Regions from separate parts of the Homo sapiens genome. Here region 2 is linked to region 1. The links come from fine-mapping of genetic effects on gene expression. A gene starts in region 1. The other region holds a variant in brackets. All regions are shown on one strand. Distances are from middle to middle. Region 1 holds the start of CFAP144 (cilia and flagella associated protein 144). Region 2 has its middle 28 kb from the start of CFAP144.

Region 1 (2,908 bases):
TTGCAGCATGTACAGCCCTCAAAATAATATATTAAGAACTCCAACAAATTGATAAACAATCCAATTAAAAATTTTGTTCAACACTGTGTCCCAGACTAAACCCATTCTGCAATTCACATTGTGTCCTGAGCGAATGAATGGATGGATGAATGAATGAAGTACTGAGTGGGGAAGAGCACAGTCTTCAGACAGTATTTAGGTGCTTACTAAAAATAGGGGTGGCTTCTTTCTTTATGCTAGACCTACTTTTTATTTATTTTTTATTTTTTAGAAGGAGTCTCGCTCTGTCCCCCAGGCTGGAGTGCAGTGGCGCAATCTTGGCTCACTGCAACCTCCGCCTCCCGGGTTCAAGCGATTCTCCTGCCTCAGCCTCCCGAGTAGCTGGGATTACAGGCATATGCCATCACGCCTGGCTAATTTTGTATTTTTGGTAGAGATGGGGTTTCACCATGTTGGTCAAGCTGGTCTCGAACTCCTGACCTCAGGTGATCCACCTGCCTCAGCCTCCCAAAGTGCTGGGATTACAGGCGTGAGCCACCGTGCTCGGCGATTCTTTTAAAATAAACTACATTATTTAAGGTATCTAGCAGACTCAAATTCATAGAAACAAAAAGTGAAATGCCAGGGGCTGGAGAGAAGGGAAAAGGGAAACTTGTTGTTTAATGGGTGTGAAAAAGTTCTGGAGATTGGTTTCACATAGTTTGAATATACTTAATACTACTGTACTGTAATACTTAAAAATGGCTAAGATGGTAAAATTATATTACGTGCATTTTAAACACAAACATTAAAAATAAACTATAAAGTCAACAAGTTCCTTAATTAGGAAAGGTTTATTCTGTCAATATTATCACATTGGTAATCTTGGTCACACTGGCCAGAACGTTTTCTCAGAGAGGAAACCTCCGGTTTTTTTGTGAGGTTTTGATTCTGGGCATCTGCTTTAAGGTGGGAGAGGTTTCTGACTCCTTCCAAAAGCTTTTTTAGGAAATGATTGGCCAAGGTGAGGTCCAATCATCTGTCCCTTACCTCCTGGGTCTGCCCCTTGCCGGGAAGCCCTTTCCTGGCGGTATCCAGGGGACCTTCTAGTAACCAGCCGGGCCTGAGGAGCTGGGGCAAGTGAGTACAGTGCCAGAATAGGGCGGGGCGCGAAATAAGATCCCGACCGGCGGGCGCGGGGCGGGGCGATGCAGGCAGGGTAAGGGGCTGGCAGAGTGAGACCCGCCCCGACCGGGCAGCACTACCCGAGCGCTGTTGCCTGGAGACCACGGGACGCCGTTGCCTGGAGACAGCGGGGACGCGTTGCCTGGAGACTGTGGAAGGCCCAGGCAAGAGGGCGCGTGGCAGCCCAAGGCCATGGCGGGACACCCAAAAGAGAAGGTGATTCCAGATGAGGTCCATCAGAACCAGATCTTGCGGGAACTGTACCTCAAGGAGCTACGAACCCAGAAACTCTACACGCAGTATCACGTGAATCCCCTCCGCAAGAGTGAGAGGCACGGCGGGGTGGGGGAAGGGCGAGAGCGGGAGGGCGCCGGGGAAGGAGGAGCCCTCCGGGTTGCGGGGTGGGAACGCGGTCCCAGCAAAAACTCTTTCCCCAGCACCCGCCCCCTTTCCTAGATTTCAGGAACCATGACTTTGGAGAGGCCACATCATATCAGATGTATTCGCTGTATTAAAGTTCATGCGCAACACGATTAAATCTTTTCGTTGTAGAAAAAAAAAAGTTGTAGGGCTTTTTATTATTTTACTTTTGAAATAATTATATTTTGCAGGCTGTTTGTGTTTTGTTTTTGTTTGTATTTTGGGTTGTTTTTAACAAGTGAAAGGTTTTTCTTCAGGCTTCTGATATTGCCCTTCGGAAAGTTCTGGGGTGCCCCCTGATAAAACATCCCTACCCTCCACTCTTGTCACTGAGCACTCTCCTTGGGCAGTTTGTTCTGTCCTGTCACACCAGCTTCCCCTGAATGCCACTGGGCCTGAAATGGAGCTTCAGATCCACACGCCCAACCACCTCACAGCTCCCCTCCCTGGACAACCCACAGGCACCTCAGACCCAGCAGGAGGAAAGCCAGGCTCATTCCCACCTTCCCCACTCTCTGCTGCTCCAGAATACCCTGTCTCTGCAAAAGGCCCCGGATGATTCACTCTCATGATCAGAATCATTCACTCTCATCATCTAATGATCTCATGATCATTAGAAGCCTCGGAGTCCTCCTCAAGGTCTCTCTCCCTCCACACACTTAAAAAAAGGCACAAGTCCTGTTTATTAACATTCCTCTCCCCTGACCCACTTGTTCCTGCTTCAGTGAAAGACACCATCATGCATATGGATTCCTCTCTGCCTCTGCTCAGGTACTTTCATGCTCTAAGTAGCACCTCAAACAGCCTCTGCCTGCATCCTCACTCCTGAAGCCTCTGCAGGGCCCTAGTCCTTGCCGCCTGGATTGGTCTGATGGGCTCCCAACTCCTTATTCTCTTTCCCTCCAAGCTGGCCCCTCCGACCAAACCCCTACACCTTTGCTAGCTTAGCACTATGCTAGGAGGACAATTAGATCACATCAATCCCACCTAAAATCCTTCTCATAGCCTCTGAGGTAAAGTTTAAATCAATCACGACATAAGGCGCATTGGATCTGGCTCTGGTTCCTGCCAGCTTCATGCCATACTCCTCTCCCCCACTTTACCCTGCTCCTTTAAGAAATACTTTGGTGCCTACTCTGCACCAGCCATTGCTGACGAATCCCACACACACTCCTTTCCCCCCTGCCATTTCTAAATACATGGATTTCCTAAATGCATCATGTCATTTCCCACTTTACCTGCATAAACATTGTTGCTTCTTCCTGAATGCCTCTCCCAACTCTGTGCCTAATATGTAAAGTCCACTTTGTTGCCTGGCTCTATA
Region 2 (2,908 bases), 28 kb before region 1:
TTGTCTGTAAAGTATTTTATTTCTCCTTCGCTTATGAAGCTTAGTTTGGCTGGATATGAAATTCTGGGTTGAAAATTCTTTTCTTTAAGAATGTTGAACATTGGCCTCCACTCTCTTCTGGCTTGTAGGGTTTCTGCCGAGAGATCCGCTGTTAGTCTGATGGACTTCCCTTTGAGGGTAACCCGACCTTTCTCTCTGGCTGCCCTTAACATTTTTTCCTTCATTTCAACTTTGGTGAATCTGACAATTATGTGTCTTGGAGTTGCTCTTCTCGAGGAGTATGTTTGTGGCATTCTCTGTATTTCCTGAATCTGAACGTTGGCGTGCCTTGCTAGATTGGGGAAGTTCTCCTGGATAATATCCTGCAGAGTGTTTTCCAACTTGGTTCCATTCTCCCCATCACTTTCAGGTACACCAATCAGATGTAGATTTGGTCTTTTCACATAGTCCCATATTTCTTGGAGGCTTTGCTCATTTCTTTTTCTTTTTTCTCTAAACTTCCCTTCTCACTTCATTTCATTCATTTCATCTTCCATTGCTGATATCCTTTCTTCCAGTTGATCACATCAGCTCCTGAGGCTTCTGCATTCTTCACATAGTTCTCGAGCCTTGGTTTTCAGCTCCATCAGCTCCTTTAAGCACTTCTCTGTATTGGTTATTCTAGGTATACATTCTTCTAAATTTTTTTCAATGTTTTCAACTTCTTTGCCTTTGGTTTGAATGTCCTCCCGTAGCTCAGAGTAATTTGATCATCTGAAGCCTTCTTCTCTCAGCTCTCAAAGTCATTCTCCATCGAGCTTTGTTCCCTTGCTGGTGAGGAACTGCGTTCCTTTGGAGGAGGAGAGGCGCTCTGCGTTTTAGAGTTTCCAGTTTTTCTGTTCTGTTTTTTCCCCATCTTTGTGGTTTTATCAACTTTTGGTCTTTGATGATGGTGATGTACAGATGGGTTTTTGGTGTGGATGTCCTTTCTGTTTGTTAGTTTTCCATCTAACAGACAGGACCCTCAGCTGCAAGTCTGTTGGAATACCCTGCTGTGTGAGGTGTCAGTGTGCCCCTGCTGGGGGGTGCCTCCCAGTTAGGCTGCTCAGGGGTCAGGGGTCAGGGACCCACTTGAGGAGGCAGTCTGCCCGTTCCCAGATCTCCAGCTGCGTGCTGGAAGAACCACTACTCTCTTCAAAGCTGTCAGACAGGGACATTTAAGTCTGCAGAGGTTACTGCTGTCTTTTTGTTTGTCTGTGCCCTGCCCCCAGAGGTGGAGCCTACAGAGGCAGGCAGGCCTCCTTGAGCTGTGGTGGGTTCCACCCAGTTGGAGCTTCCCGGCTGCTTTGTTTACCTAAGCAAGCCTGGGCAATGGCGGGCGCCCCTCCCCCAGCCTCCCTGCCGCCTTGCAGTTTGATCTCAGACTGCTGTGCTAGCAATCAGCGAGACTCCGTGGGCGTAGGACCCTCCGAGCCAGGTGCGGGATATCATCTCGTGGTGCGCCGTTTAAGCCAGTCGGAAAAGCGCAGTATTCGGGTGGGAGTGACCCGATTTTCCAGGTGCGTCCGTCACCCCTTTCTTTGACTCGGAAAGGGAACTCCCTGACCCCTTGCGCTT[C/T]CCAAGTGAGGCAGTGCCTTGCCCTGCTTCGGCTCGTGCACGGTGCGCGCACCCACTGACCTGCGCCCACTGTCTGGCACTCCCTAGTGAGATGAACCCGGTACCTCAGATGGAAATGCAGAAATCACCCGTCTTCTGCGTCGCTCACGCTGGGAGCTGTAGATTCGGCCATCTTGGCTCCTCCCCGACTTTGTTTTTCGATTGTTTTGTCCCTTGAGATTTTATCTTAGTTTGACGTGGATTTTTTTTCATAGAATCATTGCCCAGGTAATTTTTTAATTTCTAAAAAGAAATCATTGAGATTTTGATAGACATTATGTCAAATCTGTAGATCCCTTTTGGTAATATTGACTTCTTAACAATATTATATCTTCCAATCTATGAACATGGATTGGAAAGGATATTCTACTTAAGGGTGTCTTCCTTAATTTCTTTCACCAAAATTTGTAGTTTGCAGTGAACAAGTCTTTTGCCTCTAAGGTTATTCCTAAGTATTTTATCCCTTTGATGCTATTGTAAATAAAATTTTGTTCTTAATTTCCTTCTTGGATTGTTTGTTGTTAGTGCATAGAAAGACAACTGATATTTGCATGTTGATTTTATATCTTGTAACTTTGCTAAATTGGTTTATTAGTTTCAACACTGTTTTTGTTGGGATTTTTAGGGTTTTCTACCTATAAGACCAAGTTGTCTGTGAACAGAGATAATTTTACTTCTTCCTTTCCAACTTGGATGCCTTTTATTTCTTTTCCTTGCCTAATTTCTCTGGCTAAGACTTCTAGTACTATGTTGAATAGAGTGATAAAAAGAGACATTCTTGCTTCTAATTTAGAGGGAAAGCTTTCAGTCTTTCACCATTGAGTATGACGTTAGTTGTGGGCTTTTCAAAGATATGCACAGCGGCTTTTAAACGTCTTGATTTTCCTAAGACTTTCACCCCTGCTTCTTCTCAGGGTCTTAGATGTTCCATTGTAATTCTCTGCCTGTAATCTCCCGCTCCAAGTGCCCTTGGGTCTACAGTTCTCCGGCAGTTTTCATGTGCCATGGCACCTGCCACTGCTTTCAGTGGGGTCCAACCTGCTATCCAACTATGCCACCGTTCCCATCTAAGCTGAGTCAGATGAGATAAAAATCAGTTCCTCAGGCAGCCTCCAGACAAGACAGAACAGTGCAAACAAGTCCCAGTCTTTTCCCTCTGAAAGGGGAATTGTGTGACTTCCTCCTGACTGTGTTGCACTGAGGAGAAGGTAGGCAAGGGCTCAAAAAAAAAAAAAAAAAAAAAAAAAAAGCAACACAATTTCCTACTGTGTTA

Evidence for each region.
Region 2: its variant is fine-mapped to the expression of CFAP144 in sun-exposed skin (GTEx, PIP above 0.99). The same link has a PIP of 0.9 or more in esophagus mucosa.

The regions. Positions count from the first base shown.
Region 1 is chr1:43,146,596-43,149,503 of GRCh38, forward strand. CFAP144 (cilia and flagella associated protein 144) reads left to right here and starts at 1,309. Exons shown (of 4, transcript NM_001101376.3): 1 at 1,309-1,489. The coding sequence starts at 1,357.
Region 2 is chr1:43,118,735-43,121,642 of GRCh38, forward strand. No RefSeq gene overlaps it. Among named protein-coding and RNA genes, the nearest start is that of CFAP144, 28 kb to the right of the region's middle. RefSeq lists enhancers at 837-1,478, 1,479-2,119, 2,668-2,908. The variant C/T (reference allele first, on the strand shown) is at 1,597.